Homo sapiens: one gene and its partners. The protein of the gene in region 3 interacts with the protein of the main gene of each other region in a pairwise test. Each region holds a gene or a part of one and is shown on either strand. Other genes may lie near its edges. The genes, in order: POGZ, ZNF581, ASB13 and MSRB3.

Region 1 (7,025 bases), on a different chromosome or scaffold from region 3:
CTATTAAAATTCACATTCTGGTTCAGTAGGCCTAGGGCGGGGCTGAGAGTCAGCATTTCTAACAAGCTCCCACCTAATACTACTGGTACTTGAATAGCAAGGCCCTATGAAATTAGAGCACAGACCATCAAAACCGAAAAAACAGAGCCTCTCACTCTGCTAGGAGAGAAGAACAAATAGCTCTAAGAGTTGAAGGAGGAAACATATTAGAAGCAGGGGAGAAAATGAAATGAGTGCTCAAGAATCTGGCTGGGGCCGGGCGCAGTGGCTCATGTCTGTAATCCCAGCACTTTAGGGAGGCCGAGGCAGGTGGATCACCTGAGCTCAGGAGTTTGAGACCAGCCTGGCCAACAAGGTGAAACCCCGTCTCTACTAAAAATACAAAAAAATCAGCCAGGCATGGTGGTGCACACCTATAATCCCAGCTACTTGGGAGGCTGAGACAGGAGAATCACTTGAACCCAGGAGGCAGAGGTTGCAGTGAGCCAAGATCATGCTATTGCACTCCAGCCTAGGGGACAGAGTGAGACCCTGTCTTCAAAAAAAAAAAAAAAAAAAGAAGAAGAAGAAGAAGAAAAAAAGAATCTGAACTCTCAAGCTAAAACACTGGTTAAAAACCAACTTACTTGATCATGTGGTTGGCATAAGCTCGAGAACAGCAGGTGCTATAGCGACACAGAGAGCAGTGTACGTAAGTAGGGAAATGATTAGGGAAGTCTGGGATCTCGAAGCTGCACTCCAGGCATGTCTGCCGGCCCATGACACTCCTGTGGGGGAAAAAAAAAAAGAATTCTCATTACTGCCTCATGGGTCCCCAAAATGTAGGATTTTCAGACAACAAACCCTGCTAAAAAGCTACCAGATTGCACTGTGTATCAGGAATAATCCTGGCCACCCAGTCCCCACCCGCCCAGCACTTAGAAGAAGGCGCTGACATTTTCCTAACAGCTCTCTTCTGGATGCTGCGCTGGACAGGGGGATAAAGGAAGACAGGCAGAGGGTCCATTGAGGAGGTCAGCGGTGCTGCCTCCTGCAAGGCGCTGGGAGGTGTATCATTAGAGGATACAGGAACAGTTCGTGGCTGCCCTCGGGAAGCCCGGATTGTCACCTGAGAACCAAGGGAAGTAACAATGAGACATCACCCACACTAAATTTCAGAATACTGAAAATCTCTATTCCTCCCTCCCTGGGCCTATAAAAGACACTGGCAAACTCTTTACCTTGGTGCCTGGTTTCAAGCCCTCCAGCTGCTTGGGTTTACGGAAGGTTTTATGGTGTTGAAGCTTGTGTTCAATTTTGTCCTTGGCAAAGAGAAACTGCAGCCGGCATTTGTTGCAGTGATAAACATTTCTCTTCTGAAGTGGGGGAGGGAAAAAAAGAGACAAAATCCCTTAAAGGTTCCTAATAAATTTTCTTTTTTGAGGAGAAAGCAGATCAATGTCAACCATATCATTCTTCCCACCTTTCTGTTGATAATTTAAGAGAGTAAGAAAGAAATATGCAACATGACCACAAAACCTACCATTGAGAATCATCACCTCCCATGATATCAAAGAAAGATGGATTCTAGTCCAGGATGACTAAGTTCTCAAATCATCCTTTCCTGACTTGTTTTAACAATTTGAATGAGTGATGTAACCTTTATTTGTATTATATCTTTACACTGCTGACAACTGGACATTCTTCTGGACATTCTTCATTCTTCTTTTTTTAAAAAAGGACAATGTACATAGTAAACTAAAGTCATACTTTTTTTTCTATACTCTTCCAACTTTGCTTTCAACTCCAACACTCAGTCCCCTTCCATACAAACAACTTATTACCAGTTTCCTGAGTATGCTTTCGTGGGCAGTCTACACATATAACTGTATCACAAATACATTCATATCCAATCATTACCTGCCTCGCCCCCTTTTTTTGAGACAGGGTCTCTCTCTGTAGCCCAGGCTGGAGTGCAGTGGCATGTTCATAGCTCACTGCACGTCCCAAGTAGCTGGGACTACAGGCACGTGCCACCACGCCCGGCTACTTTTTGTATTTTTTTGTAGAGACGGGGTGTCACCATGTTGCCCAGGCTGGTCTTCAACTCCTGGGTTCAAGTGATCTACCTGCCTTGGCCTCCCAAAGTGTTGGGATTACAGGCGTGCATCACTGTGCCTGGCCCTTACTTTTTTCCCTTTCCTTTTTGTAGAGATGTTGTCTCACCATGTTGCCCAGGCTGGACTCCACCTCCTGGGCTCAAGTGATCCTCCCACCTCAGCCCTCTTCTTTTTCTCCTTTTAACACAAATGATAGCACTTGTCTATACCTTGCTGTTTTCTCACTTAACACATCAGTATATACAGATATGTCTCCTGGTGAGACCACTTTGAGGATTCAGTCTGCCTAGTATTGAAGTCCTTCAAAAATAGAACCCATGTCTATGATTTTCTTTAGTAGGATAACAAAGCTCTGTAAGCTTAGGCTAAGAGACAATTTCCATGCCCCTATTTGGAAATACAGTTGTGGTAGACAATCAGCAGTCACTACTGTGCAAAGGAGACTATGAGTGTAATAGGGTACATATGTTTGTGTGCATATGTATGTGACTATTAAGCACACATGCACTCATCTTATTCTCCATTTTGAATCCTCTCTTATATACTATATACCTTTCACTCTCCTCTAGTGGCTCTCTTCTTGTAGTATTTTAAAACGAAGTCATAGCTTTTCATCTTATAAGGAAAATAAAAGCAATAAAAAACTCTTCTTTGCCACTTCTTCCTCTGGATTTACCTACCCTGGGTCCTCCCTTTTTATAAATAAACTTCTTTAAATACATCGTCTTCATTTCCTTACCTCTCATTCATTTGTTCTGCTGAAATGTGACTTCCACCCTACCAACCAACAAAATGGCTCTCATCAATGTTGCTAAATTAAAGGCCTGTTTCTAAGTCTCTATGTTGCTTGACACCTTCCTGTAACATATGACATTTTGATCACACCCTTTTCTTTAAAACACTTTCTTCTCCCCAGTTTCCTTAAGGTTAAGACTCTTCTGGTTTTCCTCCTAGTACTATGGTGGTTGCTTTATAGATAAGGGACTTCAAATATCCTAAGCCTTCTCTTATTCTCAACAGGGTTGGGGGGCCCATGGTATTTAAGTTTAAAATCTATAGGATTTATATAACGCTGATTCCTAAATCTTTTCTACAACCCAGAGTTCTCTCACAGGCTTGAGATCTATTATCCAACAGCTACACTTGACATCCACAGATACTGCTAACTTACAATATCCAAGCTCATGATCTCCCCCCTCACAAATATACTTTCTCTATTGTTTCTATTTCAGCAAATAGTTCCCTCATTCACCCAACTGCCCAAGACAGAATCTTAGGCACTATTCTTAACTACTGCATTGCTACCTTCACCTAATCCATCTCTACATCATAAATATCACAAATCTTCTGAATATCTCTCAACTCTACCCTCTTTTTATTTCAAAAGCCAATAGCCACTATCATCTCTCACCTAAACTACTGAAAAAGGCCTTCTAGCTAGTTTCCCTAACTGTAGTCTCAATCTCCTTTAATCCATTCTCTGCAGTGCAGGCAGTATAAAGCCTTAACTAAAGCTGAACACATCACTCCAGGGCTTAAAACCCCTTTAGTGGCTTCCCAGTGAATTCTTTTCATGGCTTAAAAGATCCTCCATGATCTGTCCCTGCCTAACTTCCAACCCCTCTGTCTCTTACACCCTACACTGAATCTCTCTCAATTTCTTGAACCTCCACAATTTTGCTTTGTGCCTTGGGCACACTGTTCTTCGTCTTATTTCATCTGGCTCATTCTTATTCATCCCTCAGGTATTGAACAACACTTCTTTCTGGAAGCCTTACTAGGCACCCAGAATAGCTATGTGATTTTCTATATCCTATAATTTCCCCAACACAGTACTCTTCATGTTTTATTGTATTGTTTGCCTTGTTTACTACTAAATCTCTAGCATCTAGACTAGTACATGGCACATTAAGTGAATTCAATAAATTTCTGCAAACATATGCATATTATAATCTCTGCCCAAATTATTTGCCTAGCTCAGCCCTGGCCCCAGCATCCATGTTTAAAAAAAAAAAAAACAAGAGAATATGGGAATTGCTTGGTGCCTAGTACCTGGTGCCTCATGTAATGCTGTTGGAATGCATTGCCATTTTTGAAGACCTTCAGGCAATAAGGGCAGAGCAGATGCCGGGTATCCTCATGGATCATCCGAAAATGGACATCTACCTCAGAGTAGAGTGAGGAGCGATATTGACACACCTGAGTCACATAGGAGGGAAAATAAGGCTAAGAATGAAGTGAACAACTGAGAGGCCTTAAAAAAAAAGGTAGCAACAAAAATTTTTAAATTAAAAAAAAAAAGTTTTCTCAAATGCATAGAAATCAAATTATTTTCCTGACTTTGTAATGCTGGGCTATGTTTGTGATAGGTTTAGCTATTACTTTAAAAATAGGAAGGGACAGAAAGTCTAAGAATAATCCATGTTCTCTAACTAAGAAAAATAAAGCCTTTTCTGTCAATTTCCAAAGGGCACGTTCAGGAGACAGACACTCCCTTAGAATATGCACATGTTCCCGGCTAGTCTACTTGTGGACATGTTCTTTTATGTTTTTCTCCTGCATGGAAACCCTGAAGATAAACTGTGTTTACTATTTCTTCTGTACCTACTCAGAGTTCCTAAACTGAGTGTATGCAGTAGGTGGTCAACAATATTCATTAGTAAATTCTTTGTATTCTTCCTGAGGGCAAAACTGCTAAAACTCCCTGGAGAAAAAGGCAATACCTGGCAAACATAAGGCATCTCTCCAGGCTTATGAGTATCCTTCATATGCTGGAGAAATAGTGGCTCACTTTCAAACGCCCATTCACAGATCTTGCACTTGGCTGTAAGAAGAAAAGTAATCAATAAATCCACTTGAAAATAAGACAAAAGTCCTGCTGACTCACAATCTTTATTTTCTCTGCCTCCTTTATTTTGATTTTCAACAATCAGTAAATCATAGGTCCCTTCTGTTCTTTCTTTAAATGGCTCCACCTTAACATATATGTTGCTGATAATCTTATGTACGTAGCTCAGACTTCTTACCAAAGCTTCATTCTAGATTTTATCTATAAGACATTTTAAATTGGTTATTCTATCGTCAACTCTAACCTAATTCAGCATCCTCCTGTCTTACCACTGTTTCCCTTTTTCCTTTCCCCATTTCTTCCTGAGCTCAAAATTTAGGCACTATCTCGGATTCCAAACCCTGCATTCTGTCACCATTATTTCAAACTGCATGTAGGAACTGTCACTTCTCTATACTTATAATAAGGCAAAAACTTGGTACTAGCCCATATGATTTCCCACTGCTAATCAGCTGGCCTCCAATACCTCCTACTCTCTTTGAAATTGTCCATTTTGTCAAGCTTATGAGAAAAAATTTTGACAAAATTTTATGACACAAATGAACAATTTTGTCAAACTTCTGAGACAATTTTTGGTAATTTCATGTTGGCCAGGTTGGTCTCGAACTCCTGACCTCAGGTGATCTACCTGTCCCAGCCTCCCAAAGTGCTGGGATTATAGGTGTGAGCCACCGTGCCTGGGCTTTTTTTTTTTTTTTTTTTTTTAAGAGACAGAATCTCACTGTTGCTCAGGCTGGAGCATGATCATAGCTCACCGCAGCCTCCTGAGTAGCTAGGACTATCCTTTGAGCTCAAGCGAGCCTCCTGTTTCAGCCTCCCAAGTAGCTAGGACTACAGTGGTGCACCACCATGCCCAAGTAATTAAAAAAAATTTTTTTTTGTAGGGACAGGGTCTCGCCATGTTGCCCAGGCTGGTCGGAAACTCCTGGCCTCAAGCAATCCTTTTGTCAATCCACTTCAGTCTCCCAAAGTGCTAGAATTACAGGTGTGAGCCAGTGCACCGGCCAATTTTGGTAAGACTTTTAACTGCTACATATTTTTAATTATACAGTATGGCAAAAAGAGAGAGATTATTTACATTTTTGTCACTTTAATGGAATTAGTTTCAAGTTTTTGCAAATATGAAAACTGGAAGCTTAAAGCCTTGGGCATTTACTGGACAATGTCTAACCTCCCCCCGCCCCCAGCCCCCTACACCCCAGCCAAAGAAATATGAATAAAGTTGAAATAATTCTTTTTTCTTTTTTTAACTACCGAGAACCCTGGATTTTTGTTTTGAGACAGAGTCTCGTTCTGTCTCGCACGCTAGAGCGCAGTGGCTCAATCATGGCTCACTGCAACCCTGACCTCCCAAGCTCAAGCAATCCTCCCATCTCAGCCTCCCAAAGTACCAGAATTACAGGTATGAGCCACTGTGCCTAGCCAAGTAATTTTTTAAAGTAAAACAAACAAACAAAAGCCAGGGGTTCTTAATCTGGGGTCTATGGAACAGGCCTCTAGGAATCCAGGCTTTCTCTGAAATTATTTGCAAAAGAGTAAAATGTAGATTTTTCTAGGAAGAGGATTCAAACATTTCATATTTATTCTCAAAGAGGTCTGCAACTCCATTTAGAAACACTGTCTACAGGTACATTAGGTGCTATGAGGACATGGATAAATAAGAAATTCTGCATAAAGGAATGAGGAAAAGCTATAACAACATATAAAAGCTGAATTGTCAAAGAATGGGGCTCAGCCAGCCAGAGAGAGGACCAAGAGAAAAGCAGGAGGAAAGGCAAGTAGGTATGAAAGTTAACCACATGTTTGGGAAACAGTTAACTAGCAACATAACGATATTATCTCTTTTCCACTCACCCCCCGATTTGTTTACCTCTCTCATTTTTCTCTTCTAGAACACCTTTAAGCAATATTTTGTCCAGGCCTTTCTTAGTCTATGTTTTCCCTGGGCAATCTCATTCACTCTTTCTCCTATAACCTATTTATCAGCTCTATTTTCACAGCTGTCATGCAACATCAATAATAAAAACACTTATTAAGCAATTTCTAATGTACAAGCATCAGGTTAAGATTTACATGTG
Region 2 (6,943 bases), on a different chromosome or scaffold from region 3:
CTTGGGGTTGGGGGAGGGTGCTACTGCCATCTGGTGGGTGGAGGCCAAGGATGCTGCTCAACACTCTACAGTGCACAGGATGGGCCCCCACAACAAAGAGTGGTCCGGCTCAAAATGTGTGGTGGCCCACGCCTGTAGTCCCAGCTGTTTGGGAGACTGAAGTGGAAGGATCACTTGTGCCTGGGAGGGTGAGGCTGCAGTGAGCCAGAAGCATGCCACTGCACTCCAGCGTGGGCGACAGAGTGAGACTCTGTCTCAAAAAATATACATACTGCCCAGTAAAATGTTTAAAAAGTACCTTGTGTCCCAAACCAAATATAACTGTGAGGCCTTTTGGGCCCTTGGGCCTCCAGTTTACAACTGGTTGACAGTGGTCTCTGGAATTGTTCCATAAGGTAGGAGCCATATGTGGCTTAAATTTTGATTATGGGAAATTAGTATTTTTTGAGACAGTCTCCCTCTGTTGCCCAGGCTGCAGTATAGTGGCACGATCTTGGCACACTGCAACCTCCACCTCCTGGGTTCAAGCGATTCTCCTGCCTCAGCCTCCCAAGTAGCTGGGACTGTAGGGGAGCACCACTACGGCCGGCTAATTTTTGTACTTTTAGTAGAGAAGGAGTTTCACCATGTTGGCCAGGCTGGTCTCGAACTCCTGACCTCAGGTGATCCGCCCGCCTTGGCCTCCGAAAGTGCTGGGGTTACAGGTGTGAGCCACCGTGCTGATTATGGGAAATGTAATACAATTTAAAATTCAGGTCCTCTGATACACCAGCCACATTTCAAGAGTGTAAGAGTCCCACGTGGCTAGTGACTGTCATAGAACTTTCCACCATTGCAGAAAGTTCTGATGGACAGTGCTCTAGGATGTAGCTGTGGCACCCCAGGGTCTTGGGGCTCGCTGTGACAGTTACTCCTCTTCTGTCCCCCACTCTCAGCTGCACCTGCAGATGCTGCTGCTGCCGCCCTCCTGCGAGGCCGTGGCGCCACGTGGCTGGAGGAGGAGCTGCAGCTGCCCCGAGTGCTGCCGCGTGTGCAGCTCTCCAGTGCGGCTGCAGCGCCACCGCGCGTTGCTTTCGACGCCGGAGTCCTTCGCATGCGCAGCCAGCGCCCGGGCCTCAAGTGCCCCAGGACCTGGCGCAGCCCGCGAGCCCGCATCAGGCTTCCAGTGGGCCCCGTGGGCAGTGCCAGCCTTTCCCACCTCCGCATCTGGCAAAGCCTGGCCTTCGCTGCGCTTCGGTGTCGCCACATGCCTTCTGGAAATATCACACCTCCCCACCTGCGCATGCAGCCGTCTGGCCCTCTGTGGGCCTCGGTTCCCGCATGTGCCCCGTGGAAAGAACATACCTTCCCCAACTATCTGGCAGCGTCTGGCCTTCTCCGGGCCTCGGCCTCCCCATTTGCTGGGTGGAGAATCACGGCCCGGCCACATCGGAGCCAATGGCTGGTCTCTGGACCTCGGTCTCCACATTTGCTCAGCCGGCAGGAACATCCCTTCTCCCGCCCTCTACCTCGGTGGGTGGCCACGGCCGAGCAGGCAGCGACGGCCCAGTGGAAAGAGGACAAACCCTTGTGGGCCTTAGGGCGAAGACGTAACTTTGCTTAGTCTCGGTTTATTGGCCGATCTCTTGTCAAGCGGCGGAATCGTTCCGTTCGGGAGGTGGGAGGGGAGCGGGGCCGCCGGGGGCGGGCGTCTTCAGTGGACCCCACGCCTCCGGTCCCCTCCCCGCAGGGCGCTCCGCAGAGGCGAGGGGTGGGAGCGCCGGCTCCAGGCGGCGGAACCTCCGCACTGGGCTCGCGCGCTTCCGGCCGGCGCCTTTTCCCAGGGACTCCGCCAACCCCTCGCACCCCCGCGCCCCCAGTCCCCGCGTCCCCGGCGCCGCCGGCCCGGAGCTGCCCGGAAGTCTCGGTTCCGCCGCCGGCGCTCGCCAGGGGAAGCCCGGGGCCGCCCGGGACCTCGGCCCGTTCCTCCGGACCCGAGAGGCCGCCGCACGGGGTACGGGGGCCGGGATGGAGGGAGGAGCCTGGCCCTGGGACGACGCCGGGGCCAGGCAGGCTGGGGGAGTGCGCTGGAGCCACCCGGGATGGGGGTGGGGGTCGGGAGCGGCAGGATCGGGCGGAGGGACGGGAGGGGAAGTCGAGGCGCCAGGGCTCCTTGGGGAAGTGAAGGCAATAGGAGGGGCCCCAGGGCCAGGGGACAGGCGGTGTGTAGCGGGATGGGGGCGAAAACGCCCGGGCGCTGGGGTTCCCATAAACAAGGGGAGCAGAGCAAAAGAACGGGCGGGGGACCACGCTGTGTGTAACAGGGAGAGGGATGGGGCTCCTGGAAGAGGTGAACACGAGGAGAAAGAGAGATGCCAGACGTACACAGAAAGGAGGGGAAAGTGGGCTTGGGAGAGGTGCTGTGGGAAGCGGAGTCCCGGAGCCTGGTGTGCATAACGGGGTTTGGGAGAAGGCCCCTGATGGGTACAGAAAGAAGTAACGATGTCACCGCCATATATGGGGGGCGAGAGAAAAGGGGGCCTTTGGGGAGAATGTAGCAGGTAGCCAGGTTGGGGGGGCGGGGTATACAGAAGGAAGGCATTTGAGCCATTTTGGGGTGTATAGATGTAGTAAGACGATGGGTTCCGTAGTGGGGAGAGGTGACTAGACTTCGAGGTGCTAAGTGTAGGAACAGGATGGAAAAGCCCTAGTGAAATGTGGGGAATTGGGTTAGTGGGGCTCTGGGGAGGTACCTAGAGAGGAAGTGAGGGAGGCCACGGAATATGAAGATGGGGAGGCCCTGCGGCATGTAGTGGGGACGGAGGGCCAGGAGGCCGATACGGGGGCCGGTGGGGGGGTAGGGGGCGGCAAAGGGAGGGGAAGTAAACTGAACTGGGGCTGGGCAACAGGAAAAAAGAAGAAACCACAGATTAGAGAAATCTCGGCGGTCAGGAGGCCCGGGGTCTAAGATGTAAAGAGGTAAACAGATTTAGGGATTGATTGTCTGCTGGGGTGGGTTGAGAGGAGAAAAGGGAAGAAAAGTCGGGGGACTACGTCCTCAGACCTGACCTGAGTGGTGAGAGGTGGACCCAGGAGGAGTGGCAGGTGGTGGCGGGGTTTTGCAGAGCTCAGTTGGAGGCCCTCTCCGAGGCAGCTTGATGGAACGTGGGAGAGCCGGGCTGGAGTCACAGTTTTTATTTTGCTAGGGAGGTAGTCAGTGGCGCACAAAGGGTAACAAGCAGTGATAGTGGGGATGCTTTCCATTTTAGGAAACTTTTCCTAAAAGGAAGTGGCAATTTTAACTAATCTCCCCTCCGCCGCTCCCAGCTGCCGCTCCAGATGCTGCTGCTGCCGCCGCGGCCACCCCACCCTCGGTCCTCCTCTCCGGAGGCCATGGACCCACCGCCCCCCAAGGCTCCCCCTTTCCCCAAGGCGGAAGGCCCCTCCTCCACTCCTTCCTCGGCGGCGGGGCCCCGACCCCCGCGGCTGGGCCGCCACCTCCTCATCGACGCCAATGGGGTCCCCTACACATACACGGTGCAGCTGGAGGAGGAGCCCCGGGGCCCGCCCCAGCGCGAGGCGCCCCCAGGAGAGCCCGGCCCTCGCAAGGGCTACAGCTGCCCGGAGTGCGCCCGTGTCTTTGCCAGCCCTCTGCGGCTGCAGAGCCACCGCGTGTCGCACTCGGACCTCAAGCCCTTCACGTGCGGCGCCTGCGGCAAGGCCTTCAAGCGCTCCAGCCACCTGTCGCGGCATCGCGCCACGCACCGCGCCCGCGCCGGGCCGCCGCACACCTGCCCGCTCTGCCCACGCCGCTTCCAGGACGCCGCGGAGCTGGCGCAGCACGTGCGCCTCCACTAAGCTCGAGACCCGGCCTGTGCTGCCCTGCCCGTCTCAGGGCCACCAAGTCTGACCCACACAGCGTCACTCACTCCCACACACACCCCCTGGCTCTGCTGAGGTTACTGCCTTACCCTGGGCCTCAGTTTCCCCACCTTCCAAAGGGAGGAGCATCATTCCTTCCTTACCCCCTTTCTAGCTGTGTGATGTAGACCAAAGTCGTTGCCCCTCCCTGGGCCTGGGAACCAGTCGGAACTGGGTTCCAGTCCAGCTGTGCTGTGTGAGCCTGTGCAAGTGACATGACCTCTCTAAACCTTGGTTTTCTGCTCTCTGGAGCGGTGAACCGGTGGTTGTCTGCGGGGAAGAGATGATAAAGAGCACGGGCACGGTCTGGTTCATTTCTGTATCTACCCCCCTTCCGCCCACGCCCCCGACCCTTTGCTCAATAAACATTCCGCACTCCATTTTCAGGCTCTTCCTTGCGTGTGCGTGCACGTTGGGTGCTGGGGGGTGGAGACCGGATCTTCCTCGCTTGGGTACTTTCCTCTCGGTGTGTGTTTCTGGCCGGAGCCGTTTCGCGACGGCCCGGGCGCCCCGCCCCAACCTTCCTTCCCTAGACCCTCTTCTCTCCCTTCGGCTTCTCTCTTTCGGCCGGCGCCGCCAGTTCCTGGGGCACACCCAGAGGTCCCCTTCTCGCCGCCGCCTGCAACTGCGAGGGTAGCCCGGGGCCGCTTGGAGTCGCCCGGACCTGAGAGGCTGCTGCACTGGGTACGGGGGCCGGGAGGAGGAAGGGGGCTGGGGGCGGGCGGCGGGAGGGGCTGGACCGCGTGGAGGGTACCTGGGCCGGGGCGGGAGTGGGGCAGACGCCGGAGGGGGCTGTTCTGGAGCTTGGAGGGGGCGAGAACTTACACAGAAAGGCCCAGAAAGCGAGGGCTGCGGCCCCGGGGGTGGAACCCCGGAGAGCGCTGGGACCTAGAACGAGCCTGGTGGAGGCCGGGCGAGGACTAGAGAGAACCTGAGGTGGGTGGACGGGTGGGAGCACGGAGTTGTTCAGACACGTGGCTGGAGAGAGGGCCGGAACCTGGGGGTCCTAACGTCGGAGCCCCTGTGAATAGGCTTGGCTTGTATGGAGGGGGTCAGGAAAGGCTTGAGTATGTAGCATAGGCCAACACGCAGACCCTGGAAAGGGCTAGAAGGAGGGGAGGGAGAGGCCTGGAGGCCTGCGGGGTGGGGCACCCAGTGACCTGGGAGGGCACAAAGAGGAAGGTTAGAGCGAGGTCCAGGTTGTGCAGAGGAGGTCAAGAGATCCTGTGAGTACAGTGTATGGTGGAGCACCGAGGCTAGGAGAGGTTTTCCAAGGAGGAAGACCCTGGGGACCTTTTAGGGGGCCACAGACTCCAGCTGTGAGCGGGACTGGAAAAGAGGGACTGAGGGGCAGCAGGATGCAGAGGTCCTGGGCCGGGTATAGGGAGGGAAAAGGATGGAGCCTGTGGTGCTGAGCTGCCCTCTTCTATATAACCTTCTTATCCCATCTCCCATCCACCAGGCCTCAGCCAGCCCTCCGGATGCTGGTGCTGCCATCCCCCTGCCCTCAGCCTCTGGCATTTTCCTCCGTTGAGACCATGGAGGGCCCTCCCCGTCGGACTTGCCGCTCCCCAGAACCTGGACCTTCCTCCTCCATCGGATCTCCCCAGGCTTCATCTCCTCCAAGGCCCAACCACTACCTGCTTATTGACACTCAGGGTGTCCCCTACACAGTGCTGGTGGACGAGGAGTCACAGAGGGAGCCAGGGGCCAGTGGGGCTCCAGGCCAGAAAAAGTGCTACAGCTGCCCCGTGTGCTCAAGGGTCTTCGAGTACATGTCCTACCTTCAGCGACACAGCATCACCCACTCGGAGGTAAAGCCCTTCGAGTGTGACATCTGTGGGAAGGCATTCAAGCGCGCCAGCCACTTGGCACGGCACCATTCCATTCACCTGGCGGGTGGTGGGCGGCCCCACGGCTGCCCGCTCTGCCCTCGCCGCTTCCGGGATGCGGGTGAGCTGGCCCAGCACAGCCGGGTGCACTCTGGGGAACGCCCGTTTCAGTGTCCACACTGCCCTCGCCGCTTTATGGAGCAGAACACACTGCAGAAACACACGCGGTGGAAGCATCCATGAGCCGGGCTGCCGGGTGCCCCAGGTACCACAGGACTTTGCAGGGAGCCTGGACTCCTGTCCAGACACCTGGTGAGAGCCTGAGGCTGGTGTTCAGGGCCCTGGACACAGACACAGAGCAGCCGCATCTCAAAGGCAGAGCCCTGCCTGAAGGAGGAATCCGTGAGTAATCTTCAGGTCCTCCGTGTTCTGGAGCTGAGATGGGAATGAGCCCCTACACAGAATGGAGTCCTCTAGCCTAAAGATATCAGCTGTTCCATGGCAGAGCCTTGACTGGATGGAGGTGGGGAGTGTGGTGTGTAAAGTCTCTGGCCTCATAAAAGGTGGCTGTGGGTCGTCAGGAATCTGCGCCATCTTCCTGGGGCTTCTGCGCTGTTGTTGGGGAAGGGACCCCAGTCCTGCCTTCCACCCCCCAACCAGGCCTGAGACTGATCAAACAATAAACACGTTTCCCACTCTGAGCACTCGAGGTTTGTTTTTAGAGACAGCATCTCAGACCCTCTTTGGTGGCCGTCTAGCAGGGAGACCTCAGCTTGCCTGGCTGGGGAATGGGAAGGTTGGCCTGCCTTGGGGTTATCCCCTCCTCAGCTCCTGAAGACCTGGGTCATCTGGGAAGAATGTTTTTAACTGAAACAATTTTAAAACCACAATCTCCTGTTACAAACACATTTTATATGGCAATAGAGTATACAGATAAGCAAAATACACGTGAACCAAGTTTCCTTTTTTTTTTTTTGAGACGGAGTTTCACTCTTTTTGCCCAGGCTGGAGTCCAATGGCACAATCTCGGATCACCGCAATGCCTCCTGGGTTCAAGCGATTCTCCTGCCTCAGCCTCCCTAGTAGCTGGGATTACAAGCGTGTGCCACCATGCCCAGCTAATTTTGTATTTTTAGTAGAGACGGGGTTTCTCCATGTTGGTCAGGCTGTTCTTGAACTCCCAACCTCAGGTGATTCACCTGCCTCGGCCT
Region 3 (7,025 bases):
GTTTGAGGGGCCTTTATCCATTCTTACACAGAGGCTAGGATAATTTTAGAGCATTAAGATAATATGCAAAAAGAGCAAACGTGTAGCTTTGAAATTAACTCTGGGATTAAAAGGAAAGCATGTAAACAACTAGCTATGTTTTGTTAAAGATTTATAGGAGCACTGCGACCTGATCAAGGACAAAGATGTTCCCAACCTCCTAGGACCTTCACTGGTGCCCAGATGTCACTGGTCCTTGGTTACCTCTTGATCCCAACAGCCTCTTTTTCCCACTGCCCTTAACATAATTAAGAACCCGAAACCTGTACTGACTTAGACGGCACTTTAGACACTTATCTACCATCTTCCTGGTTTGCTGGCTCTCCAGATAAACCTGCCACCAACTCTTGTCTCTCGTATTTGGCTTTTGAGCAGTAAGCAGCCAAATCTGGGTTCAGTTACAACTAGACATAAAATTTTTAAAAGAAAATCTAATTTTATTTCTCTGTATCACCAGTCTACAAAGGAAATGCAACTTATTTCTAGTGAATCACATCAGCTGCTGTAGTCTTACTGCAGCAATTCAGGGCAAAAATTAGCAGCAGACATGATAAGAAAAAAAGAAAAAAGAAACTTCCGTGCATCAAAGGGCACAATCAGAGTGAAATGGCAACCCACAGAATGGGAGAAAATATTTGCAAGTCATATATCTGAAAAGGGGTTAGTCCAGAATATATAAAGAACTCCTGCAACTCAAAAACAAAAAAAACAAATAACCAGGTTTAAAAATGGGCAAACGAGTTGAACAGACATTTCTCTAAACAGGATGCACACAGCCACAAACATAAAAAAAAAAGGTATTCAAGGTCACTAATCATTAAAGAAATGCAAATCAAAACCACAATAAGATACTACCTCACACCTGTTAGGATTATCAAAAAAAACCAAATACGTGTTGGCGAGAATGTGGAGAAAGTGGTACTCTTGTGCACTGATGATGGGAATATAAAATGGTCTAGCCACTGTGGAAGACTGTATGGCAGTTCCTAAAAAATGAAACATAGGATATCATATGATCCAGCAACTCCACTGCTGGGCATATCTCCAGAAGAATTGAAAGCAGGGTCTTGAGGAGAGATTCATTTGTACACCCACATTCATAGCAGCATTATTCTCAACAATCCAAGTGTCCAGTGGAATATTATTCAGCGTTGGGAATGAAGGAAATCCTGTCCCATGCTACAACATGGATGAACCTTGAGGACATTATGCTGAGTCAAACAAGCCATTTCTAGGCCAGGCACGCTGGCTCACACCTGTAATCCCAGCACTTTGGGAGGCCGAGGCGGGCAGATCACTTGAGGTTAGGAGTTCGAGACCAGCATGGCCAACATGGGGAAACCCTGTCTCTACTAAGAATACAAAAATTAGCCAGGCATGGTGGCTGTAATCCATGGTGCTTCAGTAGTGCCAGCTACTCAGAGGCTGAGGCACGAGAATCGCATGAACCCAGGAGACAGAGGTTGCAGTGAACTGAGATCACACCACTGCACTCCAGCCTGGGTGACAGAGAGAGACTCTGTCTCAAAAATAAATAAATAAATACGCTATTTCTGGCCAGGTGCAGTGGCTCAAAACTCTAATCCCAGCACTTTGGGAGGCCGAGGCAGGCAATATGGTGAAACCCCATCTCTACTAAAATTACAAAAATTAGCTGGGCATGGTGGCCCATGCCTATAATCCCAGCTACTATGGAGGCTAAGGCAGGAGAATCACTTGAACCCAGGAGGTGGAGGTTGCAGTGAGCCAAAATCGTGCCATTGCACTACGGCCTGGGTGACTTTGTCTGAAAAAAAAAAAAAAAACAAAACCAAATAAGCCATTTCTGAAAAGCCAAATACTGTATGATTCCACTTATGTGAGGTCCCTCGAGTAGTCAAATTCATGGAGATGGAAAGTAGAAAGGTAGTTGCCAGGGGCTTGGGGGAGGAGAAATGGGGAGTTAGTGTTTCATGGGGACAGAATTTCAGTTTTACAGGATGAAAAAGTTCTAGAGATCTGTTACACAAAAATGTAAATGTACTCAACCCTACTGAAGTGGACACTTGAAATGGCTAAGGTGGTAACTTTTGTGTTCTGTGCTCTCTACTACAATTAAAAATAGAAAAAAAAAATTTTTAAGTAACCAGAAGCTGGAGGACCTAGAGCATGGGGGGACTGTCACCCGCAGGCTGTCCTCATAGGAGATTTACAGTGGGGAAGGGAGGGATAGAAGGCTAGAGGACAGCAGGTGCCTGGGGTGCACCTCGTCACCTTTCCTGACACCCCCAAACCACCGATGGCCCTTCCAGGGGGCGAAGAGACCCACTCTCTTCATAAACATCAGCCCCCAGCACCCACCACCACAGAGCAATGTGACTCAGCCCTGCAATGGCAGGGTCAGTGTCCCAGGTGAAAAGAATCGGGAAGGACAGCTTATGGTCACGGACCTTAAATGGATGAGGAGTGAGCACAGGAAATGCTGTCTGTTAGTGAATGGACTGGCCAGGATGGATTGCAGGCTGCTTCCAGCCCCTGTGCCAGGCTCCCTGTGGTGGCAAGACGCCCCCCCTCCCCAATCCCTGCACCCTCTCCCTTGGCGGAGCACCGCCTTGGAAACCCGAGACTCCATGCCGTGCTGGCGAGTTCCCTCCGGGACTCACGTTCTGCCCCTAAATCCCACCCACTGCTGCCACATAATAGGTTGCCCCCTCCCTAATGCAGATGATTGACAAGCCAGTCTGACAGGGCCTGCTCACAAGGGCTCCCTCCTCCAGGGTGGAACCCAGGCAAGGAACAAGGTCCACGACCATGCAGTCACAGGCCCTGTCCCCAGGCTCCCCGTCATGCACACAGCCGTGTCCAGTGACACCAAACTCTACCGACTCACACAGAGTCCAGTGGCTGCAAGTCCCATGCTTTGCGTATGCTGTTCCTTCCCCTGCCTGGAAAGCTCTTCTCAGCCCCATTCCCCACCTTGCTTCCGGCTGAAATTCCTCGACTGAGGGGACCCCTGCTCCTTCAGGAAGCCTCCCGAGCATGCAGCCCACCCCCCCACGCCATCTCCACACTATTGCCCCACCACCAGCTGATCAGCATTCTCCCTTCCCTGGGCCTTCCCTAAGGCCATCCCCTGTCACCTTGGGAATAGTACCACAGCTAGCCAGCCTCCCCACACAGGCTGCTCGTGCAGGTATCTGAATGAATAAGCACTCCCCAGACGCATCTTCCCCTGCCAGACTGAACTTGGACCCCTGCCGCTAGGTTCTGTCCCCTGCTCCACTTTCCAGCCCAGGACAGTGGCCTGAGACCTAACATGATGCTTGCACACTCTGGCCAAGCGGGGGCTCGTGCATCCATTAAATGAAGAACTTGTGTTGCAACAAGAGCCAAGGCTGCAGCCCTGGTGACTCATGACCCAGTCCTGATGGCTGGATTCTACCCACTTCCTCCTCTGCTTCAGGTCAGGGTCACGGTGTTACACACTATGGCTCCTCCTGTTTACCTGCCGCCTGCAGGCCTGAGCTCATGAATAGCCAAGCAAAAGCCTTTGCCCTGAAAACTAGAGTTTCACAGATGTCACCTATGTATCTACTGCAGACTACGGCAGACGTCACCTTGAGAAGGAATGACACGTGCTTCAGAACGTTCTCTCCACTCTTCCACCCACGATACGACCTTACTGGCTAGGACCGTGTGCCAGGTGTGGACCTTTCTGGACCCCAGCTCCTCTTCCCCTCTCTTGCCCCTTTGCTGGGGCCCCGACACCCTCCCATCTAAGGCTGTGCCCTGCCCCAGGACTGACCTGTCCTTTGAGATTAGGAAGCCCTGGCTGAACAGGTCAAGTGGCTCAGGGTCAGCCTACCCTCAGGGAGCAGACTCTACAGGGGCAAGCTGCAGGAACCACCCTGCTCGTGAGTTCAAAGCTCGTCTCACAGCTTACCCTCTCCAAACCTCGGCCTCCTCTCTCCTCAAATGGGTGCTGTGAAGACTGAAGAAAATCGTGCCTGGCCACCTGTAAATGCTGTGAGTAACAGGCACTGCCATGGCTCCAGGATCATTGCTGTCATTATTACCCTACCAGTCCTGTGGGGAGGGCAGGTGCGGGTTCTACCATCTCATCTTTGTTCCATAGCAAGCCCCCCAATCTTGCATTCCAGCTCCAGTAACTCAATCCTTACCTAAGTCGGGTGACTGATTGAGTCTCTGCCCAATTTTTCTGCTCAGTTCCCGGGCCCTCTGAGACCAGAGCCCCTCCATCGCTCCCTGCCTTGCAAGCCACCCAGCAGTGTGCCGGGCCATCTCGCCAGCTGGCTGCTGCACAGCCAGGTTCTGCTGGCCGGAGACCACCAGCAGCTTGAAAGCAGCCAGGATGTGAGTATTTAGACCAGGGAAAGCAGCAAAGCAGACTTTTATTTTTGTTTCTTTTTCTTTATTTTCCCCCTAGGCAGCTGGTTTGCCAGTATCTCCTCAGTCATCCCAGAGCCAGAGCCCCACTCGTTGGGCCCAAGTGGCAGCTCTGTGCCCAGGCCCGGCCACCCCCTAGAGAGCCTGTGTCTAGGAGGCAGCTGGCCTGCTGGCCCCTGCACACTGCAGAGCTGGGCACCTCCAGAGCCCATCCTCCACACTGCCCTGCCTGCACCCACACTGGCGGGCCTCACTTGACCCACACAGGGACTGCAACCATAAAAGCAGCAGAGCCACTTGCCCCCAACCCCGCCCCGCCGAGCCTGGGGCCTCTCCAGGGTCAGGGCCCACTCCAACAAAGAGCATTCTCAAATGCCACCAGGGACACCTTCCAGACAAAGCTGATCCAGTAGCATGCTGGCTTTGAATCCAGGTCAAATACCCAAGATGCACCTTTTTTCCTATTTTGTTTTCTTATTGTTTATTTATTTATTTTTGAAACAGGGTCTCGCTGTCACCCAAGCTGAAGTGCAGTGGTGTGATCAGGGCTCACTGCAGCCTCAACCTCCTAGGTTCAAGTGATCCTCCCACCTCAGCCTCCCAAGTAGCTGGGACTACAGGCCCATGCACCACCACCACACTGGATAATTTTTGTATTTTCTGTAGAGACAGGGTTTCACCATGTTGCCCAGGCTGGTCTCAAACTCCTGGGTTCAAGTGATCCTCCCGCCTTGGCCTCCCTAAGTGCTGGGATTACAGGCATGAGCCCCAGGCCCAGCCCAGAATGCACTCTTAAATGTTGCTGGAGTCAGAAATTTTGTTCCGAGTAAATCACCAAGGGGAGTCTGGGGTCCTGGCTGCAGAAATGTCATTTCTGCGTCAAAAACAACCAGCAGCCTCTGTAAGAAGCCCTCCCTGCAAAACCCCAGTAAGCATTCTTGAAATGGTGAGGGTGGGCCCTCCACCCTGACCCACCCATAAAGCCGGGCTGGGGCGGGCGAGCACACACTTGGGGAACCCACCCTGGAAGAACCAAGGCAGGCACCGGAAGCCCCCAGGGAGGGTTTTCTGATGCTGCTCTCAATGGGCTCATCCTCAGCTCTCAGGGAAAAGTCAAGAGTCCTGAGTGACATAGCCCCCCAGGGTCCCAGAAAGCTAAGGATTCATGAACACGCGCTGACTGTCAGAACTGAAAAGGCCTTAGAAATGCTGGACGATGGGCTGGGCGCAGTGGCTCACGCCTGTAATCCCAGCACTTCGGGAGGCTGAGGCAGGCGGATCACCTGAGGTCAAGAGTTCGAGATCAGCCTGGCCAACATGGCAAAACCCCATCTCTACTAAAAATACAAAAATTAGCTGGGTGTGGTGGCATGCACCTGTAATCCCAGTAATAATCCCAGCTACTCAGGAGGCTGAGACAGGAGAATCGCTTGAACCAAGCAGTGGAGACTGCAGTGAGCTGAGATCGTGCCACTGCACTCCAGCCTGGGCGACAGACTGAGACTCTGTCGAGAAGGGGGGGGGAGGGGAGGGGAGGGGAGGGGAGGGGAGAAGAGAAGAGAAGAGAAGAGAAGAGAAGAGAAGAGAAGAGAAGAGAAGAGAAGAGAAGAGAAGAGAAGAGATGAGATCCTGGATGATTAACACTCCCAGAAAAAGCCAAATGTAGCATCCATTCATCTCTGCCTGCTGTCCAAACCACACACAAGTGACGGTAAGGGAATAAAATGGGGGCTAAATCCACAAAGACAAAGAGACCACAGAGGAAAAGATAAATGAAGGATCTCATGGTGACAACTAAAGACAGTGTACGTGACAACCCCAGCACAAAGAGGGTGCCTAACGCATGGCACTTAACCACTATCACCAAATTTTAATAGCGCAGCTCAAATTTCAGTTTTAGTGTCCTTGAAACCCAAGGAAAAAAAATATGGATCTTTATTTTTCTATGTAGAAACTCCCACTTACAAGTCTGGGCTCAGTGTTTTGTTGCTACAGTGATATTTTTCAACCATGTCTTTTTAAATGTTTTCATTATGAATCCCCAAAATATAGTTTGTCGGTAAACTTGAGGTCAAACAGCAGACTGATTTTAAGATGTGTTCAATGAAGCAAAAATGCCAGTATTTGCCTTCTTAGAGGGACAAAATGGTCAAAACTCAGTAAGAGTGGAGAAAAGAAAGGGAAAGAATAAATGAAAGCAGAAGACAAGGAGAAAAGAGGTGAAAATAGGTGGGCTAAGGAGTAAAGGAACTGGGAGAAAGGACCGAAGGTGTCAGGAGAGCTTGGTGAATAACAGGCATTTCCTTCCACCTGCAGGACGCTAAAACCACACTGGATTCGCTGCATTATCCTTCAATGTCTCCTCCCCTGACTCCCTCATCACTCACCCAATTATCTGCTACCCCGACTCCTCCCTTGCCCCTGGTCCACCCCAAAGGCTATGGCCCAGGGAGCATGGGGAGGGTCCCCCAGTCCCACCCTCAAGGCACTGTGGGAGCTCAGGCCCTGACTCAGGACCCCTGAGCTCTGATCCTGCATCCTCCCTGTCTCAGTTAAGGGACCTGAGGGACGCTTTTCACCCTAAATCACCTAAGCCTCAG
Region 4 (6,928 bases), on a different chromosome or scaffold from region 3:
TTGTTAAATATTTATTACTTACTGCAGCATATCCAAAGCAAAATCTGGCAGAGTCAGGCAGCATGTCAATCACGGGAGTATAGGCTTCAACTTCCTCCAGAATTAATCAACAAAAGGGATAGCTTCGACTGTGTCAAACAGAAAATACCATCATCGGAGATGCAGGCAAATAACTTTACTGTGAAAAGAAGGACAATGGTTACTTTAATTTGGTCTTCTCTCTCTGCTTAGGAATCCCACCTGATTTCCTGGTAGTGAGTGCTTATTATTTTAACACACTTGGTGACTGGGGGCTGGATGATGTCATGGCAATGGAGATCATTTTTCAGAATCTGAGAGAAAAATTCAGATGTCTCCCTTAGCCAGTCAGTATTCACGGTGTGCCCCCGACATTGTTGAGGACAGTTCTCAACCCTATTCCCACTGTAGCACATTGAGGCAAGAGGTATGCTTCTATCAGTGTAAGGCAGTGTTCTCAGAGGTGAGAGTATTGACCGCCCACTTCCCACTATAGGAAAGCAGAATTTGGGGAGTTTGTATTGAGTGTAGTTTGAAGAATTACATCCCCCTAAGAGGTATTACTCTCACTCTCCAATTGAGTATTAATTGGTTTAGAACAGTGGCACTTGTTTTGCAGTTGTTGGCATCCACCTAAGATGTTTCTTGGTATATGTGAAGTGGGGGCTGTCCCAAGGCTTTGTGCAGTGTCTGAGGAGATTTTATTAAAGAGCTGAGAATAGCACCTTGGGCAGGTTACAGCTTAGATGCCTTTCATGTTTACCTATTCTTTTTGAAAGAGGCTGCCCCAAGCACAGCCCTATAAAAAGACAGCAACACAGTCTGTTTATTTAGGATGGGTGGCCATGTTCTGTTGGCATGTGACCTTCCCATCTTAGCCACAACTGAAGAACTAGCACCTGGATCGGGGGCGGCCAGTGGCTTGTGAGACAGACTCAATATAAGAATGGTGATAGAATCAGATTCTCCCCCCTGGGGCATTTGGTTATGAGATATATGGAGAGAGTTGGCACCTGGTTGTGGGAACAGAAGTGGAAATACAGGCAGAGAGACAAAGAGCTGTGGTTACACAACTTGAATTATTGTGTGTTCTGAAGACATTTCATGAGTTGCAGCTGTGGTATGCCAGAGCTGGCTCTACGGCCCCAAAAACTGGTTGTGTGGATCCCTTCCCAACCCTGCCTTCAGAGACATCTGGTTGGTGGGAGTATTTGTACCATGTGAATTGGTTAATACTGTAGATCAGGGCCCCTAGCCCTTTCATCCAGATCTGGTTGTTAAATGTTTACCAGCACACCACTGGGTTGGGGGAGGGATGGTGTAGGAAGCAGGCAGAAGCAGCTACCTCCTCTGGGTCTTTACCCTTAAAATCAATGTTGAATGGAATATGGTAACATGATTGTTATTAAGGCTATAATAAAGAAGACATTTAAAAAGCATTGTAAAATACATGATTAAAATATCAATGGTTAAACTACAAAACTTATAGGAATGTGGTCAAGGGGGTAGTACCTTTCCCATTCCCCTAGCTTTCAAAGGCACAGGCCCCGCCCACCATGCCTACAAAGGATGATCTGACAAGCCAGGTAAGCCTCTGGTCTTATTTCCACATGTATTCTTTACCTTGGTTACTTGAGGTAACCTGAGTGCATACCAGTTACTTAAAACCAAAAGCGCCCAATGAATACAGTTTTTGAATGCCACTTTTTTTTAATGTAGAGAAAATAAGACAGATTAGTATGGTAAAAGTATATATGCACTTTAGAATGAGGATTTAATTCTAATACTACTTCACTTCTTCCTGGTAGCATATTACTTACCTATGCCTCAGTCTCCTTAGCTGTAAAATAGGGATAAAAATAATCTCAGAGATATTTGTAAGAATTAAATGAGATATCAGTTATAAAAAACATCTAGCACAGTGTCTGGCACTTATCATGCACTTAGTAACTTTAGTTCTTTTCTGCCACTCTTAGCATATTTATTCAAGCCTTTAGAATAGTGGTTGGCATTGCTGACAGTGATGTCAGCTATGTTGATACAATGAACTCTCTATTTTTACTAACATGAATTGGGTTGTAATGATATTGCATTTTTTATAATTCTATATTTTTGTATGTAAGGTTCTTCACTAAAATATTTTAAATATAGGCATAATTATTGCAATCCTTTGAAACATGCTTTACACTTAGGGAGCTTCTAAATTCCTTTCTACAAATGGCTGTGCCCATTTTATTTTTGTTTTTAAACAAACATTTGGACTATGGGCAAAGAACTTTGCAAAGTGTTGTGGGGGAAGTAGAAAAACAGACACTTATGTAACACAAGGCTATAAAAAAAGAGGAAACGGAGGGAATACTGAAGAGCTTCTTCAGTATTTCCAACTACCTAGGTTCTAGGTACCTAATTAAATAGTCATGTTATGTGTCATTTAAATCCTTTATTCATTGCATTACAATTTATTCACCATTACTTTATCTGGGTCATCTACCCTTAGTCCCATTATAATTGCCAATGCATTAAGGGTGACATTTGCCCATTTGCTATATGTAATTCACAGGATGTGGTGTTTTTCAGTACCAGATGTTTTGAGGGGAGCCACTTGCAATGGACTGTTTTTTGGTGTATGTGTTTTAATAGTTTGCCAGAACTGAGTTTGATTTGAAACAACGTTCTTGATTTTCAAATACAGCATTTTCAAACAAATAGTGTGATGTACAAATTACCATCACTTTAGTTCACGTTGAAATAATCCACACTCTAAATCTGTTTGACATTTACCCCTTAAGTATTTTGGATCAATAAATCATTTCTGTATCATCTAGCATCTTAAAATGTTCGTAAGTAACTACTTAATACCCTACATATCCAGGTCCTGTCCCATTAGTTTGAGGGAAAAAATATATTATAGTAATTAAGACATAATTATGTTGTCTTGAAAAGCTAAGGGTCATTTGGACTTGATTACCCAAGGAGTTATCAGTGCCAAGGAAAATTAGGCAACTACAGGCTTGGGCCTGTAATTAAACATCTAGGACTGACATTTTGTTCATCAGAGGTGGCACCTTCTGAATGAATTACACCATTTCATTTTAGACAAGCTACGGTACATACAAAACAAGTGTGTGGAGGGGGTTGGGGGGTGGACATGAATAGAGATTGGAGGTGGAGAGAAAGACCGGTGTAAACTTAAGCATTTTGTTGTGAAAAACTACTGTTCAGCCAGCCTGCCTGGGCTCCATATATGGTGTTCAAATATAAGTTTGGGACGAGCACCTTTGCAATTTTGGCCAAGAACACACACACACTCACCCTCCTCTGCTAGAGAGGGCCCGCTCACCTGGAACGCAGGCGGCTGGTTCTCCGTATTACAGTGAGTGCTCGTTCTGTATGTATAGGATGGCCAAGTAACTAACTGGCAGCCCTGCTCCTGCCTCACTCTCCCACAACTTTTTATCCCCTCACCACCAACGCTCTCAACAACCCCTGACACGTCTTCCCACAGGTCCCTGGCTCGCTGTCCGGTCTCTTCGTGTTGGTTTGTCCGTTTCCCACTCCTTCAGCGGTCTCAGGTGGAACACGCCAGGTGGGCGCTTGGCTGTGTTCTGGGGTCCCGAGTTGGAAAGGGATGCCCCCAGGCAGAAGGCGGCCGGCAGCCCTGGGGCAGAGGAGGACGAGGGGGAGGAGAGGAGCAGGAGGGCAGGGCAGAGAAGGAGGAGGAGGAGGACGGTGCAGAGGAGGAGGAGGAGGAGGAAGAGGACAGGGCAGAGGAGGAGGGAGTTGGCGGCCGCCGAGCCCCGGGCAGCGGGCCCCGTCCGCGGCCGGCGCGCTCCGTGGTCCTCCCTCGCTCGTCTCCTATGCTCATATTTGGACTCGGCTGCCCGTGCCCAGGAATTTCCCGTCATGCCTCCCGCCGCCCCGTCCGTCGCCCGGAGCCGGGGAGGGAGGGAGCGAGGTTCGGACACCGGCGGCGGCTGCCTGGCCTTTCCATGAGCCCGCGGCGGACCCTCCCGCGCCCCCTCTCGCTCTGCCTCTCCCTCTGCCTCTGCCTCTGCCTGGCCGCGGCTCTGGGAAGTGCGCAGTCCGGTAAGTTCGGGCTCCCCTCCCCTCTCCTCCTCGCCTCACCCCTCCCACCCCGACCCTGCCACGTTAGGGTGTGACCCCGAGCCGGGATTCCATTCTGCGCCTGCTGCGCCCCCTCGGCCACCTGCGGGGACAGCCCCTGCCTCAGCCGAGAAGGGGAGCAGAAGGGTTGCGCCCCGCGCCAGCGGTGAGGGGCCGAACGGAAGGAGGTCAGGGCTGGTTTCCCCCCACCCGCCGAAGGGAGGCGTCTGGCAGCCTCACTGACACCTTATCCTGTCCCGGGAGCGAACCTGAACCCGCGGGAGCCTCTCGCCCCGCGCGGGCCCAGGAGAGAGGGATCTGGCGGGGCAGCCCGCGGGAGGCAGGGGAGGGGTCCATCCCGGAGCCCTCTGCTCTGTGCGTCGACCCTGCCGGGGTTGCCGCTCAGATAACGGGCCCGAGGCGTGGGAACCGGCCCGCCAGGCCTGCGCTTTTCGCCGCGCGCCTCGGAGAGGACGGGGGTGCGGGGCGGCGGGCAGGCGGCAGGGAGGGGCGCACCCGGGAGCGCACCCGCCGCCCGCCCTCCCTGCGCTGCTGCCCCGCTGCTGGGCCAGACTCCAGCGGGCCCGCCTGGCATTTCACAGGCCAAAATCGAACAGAACCCCGAGTTTGCCAGGTATCAGTTTTGCTTTGTTTTTAAGCAGAAAAAGGCATCCAAGTCTATTTTTGAAGTTTTACACTGGGCTATTTCGAGTCAAACTATATGAATGAAAAGTGCTGTTCCTGCCTTATTTGGTTTAGGGCTAATAGCTATCGGAAGTGGCAGTTATGAAGTCGTTACAGTAAGACTTTATAAGATAATCTTCTTGAATCATGTGGGAACTGTTGGGGGGAATTTAATATCAGATTATTATTTTAAAAAGCAGTTATTTTAAAGTACAAAGGTAGGGATAAAGGTAAATGTGAAATTGCATGGACTTTTACGTTTGTGATGAGTAGTCGTCAAAGCTTCTTGCTTCTTAATTTTATCGGGAATGGAAGAATATAAATTATAATTCCTTAGAGCTGAGATTTCTTAGGAGATTTTAGTTTGCTTTTGTTTTTTCTACCAATAGACTAAATTGTCAAATAAGATATGGCAAACTAGGACTCATAAATTAGTTGAAACATGACTCTATGAAGCATAGATTATATTCAGTACTCTCTGGTTTATCTCTTCATATTTTCATTTGCAGCGCTGGTGGCAAGATCGATTTTCAAAAACAATTTTGTCTATAAAAAAACTTCAGGGTTCATATAACTTATAAAATTGTCAGTTCAGATTAATGGCAGATATTTACAATATTTAACTTTATTCAATTTGCAATTTGTAAATAGTAACTTGAGCAGTGATATCAGTTTCATGTTTCTTTCTGCATAGTATTGTTTTTCAAAAAAACCCTGTTTTTTATAGATTCATATTTTGGAAGTAACTTTAATAGCACTTCTTGGGAAATACAACAGGTTCTAATTTCACATTTTTCAATGGATTTCTAAAAAATACTGTGCTGGATAGTGAAGAGTGGATTTTATTGCCAGGAAACATATGTATGCTTTCTTTTTCCTCAGTGATGTGTTGACTTACCTAATACTTGTGGTGAAACGGCCTTCGAAGACCAGAATCCACTGTACTGGCCCCTTGCCAGTAATTTTGAACATCAAGTTTATATTTGGACCATTTAAACATATATTCTTTTAATTCCGGTCCCAGCTGATATATCAGTCTAATTTCTGATGACTTTTATTAGGGCCCTATATGAATATCTGGAAATTTTTATATTAAGATAAGTAGCTCTTTGCTACTTATCTAGAATTTTGTCACAGTGCTTAAACTGCTTGTATGGCAAGGTTGCAGCATACAATGTAATTTAGATTTTGAATCAACACACTGCTTTTTGTTTTTAAAAGTGCTTGTTCTAATATTTTAACTAAGATGTTAATCCATTAAGTCAGAAATCCTTGCTATTTTGCTCAACTCAAAAGAATATCCAAAGACTATCCCAACAGTAAGGTTCATCAGTTTTTCTAATACATATGCCATTTAATAATTAAAAATAGATTTTAAGGCCACGTGTGGTGGCTCATGCCTGTAATGCAACACTTTGGGAGGCCAGTGTGGGAGGATTGCTTGAACCCAGGAGTTCGAGACCGGCCTGGTCAACATAGGGATACCCTGTCTCTACAAAAATTAAAAAAAAATTAGCTGGGCATAGTGGCTCACTCCTGTGGTCTCAGCTACTTGGGAAGCCAAAGTGGGAGGATTGCTTGGGCCAGGGAGATCGAGGCTGTGGTAAGCCGTGATCACACCACTGCATTTTTGGTTCTGTCATAATCTGGTCACAATCCCTCTAATTTATCTGCACCTGTATAATTAATTTATCATAGTTATGGATTTGGTTGATGAATTTGATTCCCATGTTTAGCTTCTCGGTAAAATTATTAAGTTGGACAGTTTCCATGTCTCTTCTAACTCCAAGATCCTATAATGTTGTTTTTGTTTATGTAACTCTTCAGAGCCACCTACTACATGTGGTTCAAACTTCTGATTGTCAGCCTGTGACTTGCTATACATGTCAAACTGGCCTACCTTAGCCAGATGTGATGGGTGTGGTCCAGTGTTGGAGAGTCCGGATCTGTCTCAGGATTGTGTTAATACCTGGAACATGCACAAAGATACATACATACCTGGACAGATTCCGTGTTAAGCTTCTATCACTTTTTCTTCCTCATCTAATAGCAGAAAGTGCTGATTATGTCATAGGGTAAATGCCTAACTGGTTTTTGGGGATAGTTAAGCCCAGGCCTTAAG

The links.
Region 1: the proteins of ASB13 (region 3) and POGZ interact in binary tests that used the Homo sapiens proteins (3 or more experiments, as listed by UniProt).
Region 2: the proteins of ASB13 (region 3) and ZNF581 interact in binary tests that used the Homo sapiens proteins (3 or more experiments, as listed by UniProt).
Region 4: the proteins of ASB13 (region 3) and MSRB3 interact in binary tests that used the Homo sapiens proteins (3 or more experiments, as listed by UniProt).

What each region holds. Positions count from the first base shown.
Region 1 is NC_000001.11:151,407,474-151,414,498, forward strand, and holds part of POGZ (pogo transposable element with ZNF domain), read right to left. Parts: intron 4,924-7,025; coding exon 4,823-4,923; intron 4,299-4,822; coding exon 4,152-4,298; intron 1,356-4,151; coding exon 1,221-1,355; intron 1,109-1,220; coding exon 936-1,108; intron 768-935; coding exon 627-767; intron 1-626. UniProt on the Homo sapiens protein: Plays a role in mitotic cell cycle progression and is involved in kinetochore assembly and mitotic sister chromatid cohesion.
Region 2 is NC_000019.10:55,639,191-55,646,133, forward strand, and holds ZNF581 (zinc finger protein 581), read left to right. Parts: upstream 1-4,458; 5' UTR 4,459-4,584; intron 4,585-5,362; 5' UTR 5,363-5,381; coding exon 5,382-5,975; 3' UTR 5,976-6,433; downstream 6,434-6,943. Other genes in the region: ZNF580 (zinc finger protein 580), read left to right, coding at 3,319-3,837. UniProt on the Homo sapiens protein: May be involved in transcriptional regulation.
Region 3 is NC_000010.11:5,656,593-5,663,617, forward strand, and holds part of ASB13 (ankyrin repeat and SOCS box protein 13), read right to left. Parts: intron 1-7,025. UniProt on the Homo sapiens protein: May be a substrate-recognition component of a SCF-like ECS (Elongin-Cullin-SOCS-box protein) E3 ubiquitin-protein ligase complex which mediates the ubiquitination and subsequent proteasomal degradation of target proteins.
Region 4 is NC_000012.12:65,274,762-65,281,689, forward strand, and holds the start of MSRB3 (methionine-R-sulfoxide reductase B3 isoform 2 precursor), read left to right. Parts: upstream 1-3,921; 5' UTR 3,922-4,007; coding exon of another isoform or gene 4,008-4,104; intron 4,105-4,195; exon of another isoform or gene 4,196-4,756; intron 4,757-6,928. UniProt on the Homo sapiens protein: Catalyzes the reduction of free and protein-bound methionine sulfoxide to methionine. Isoform 2 is essential for hearing.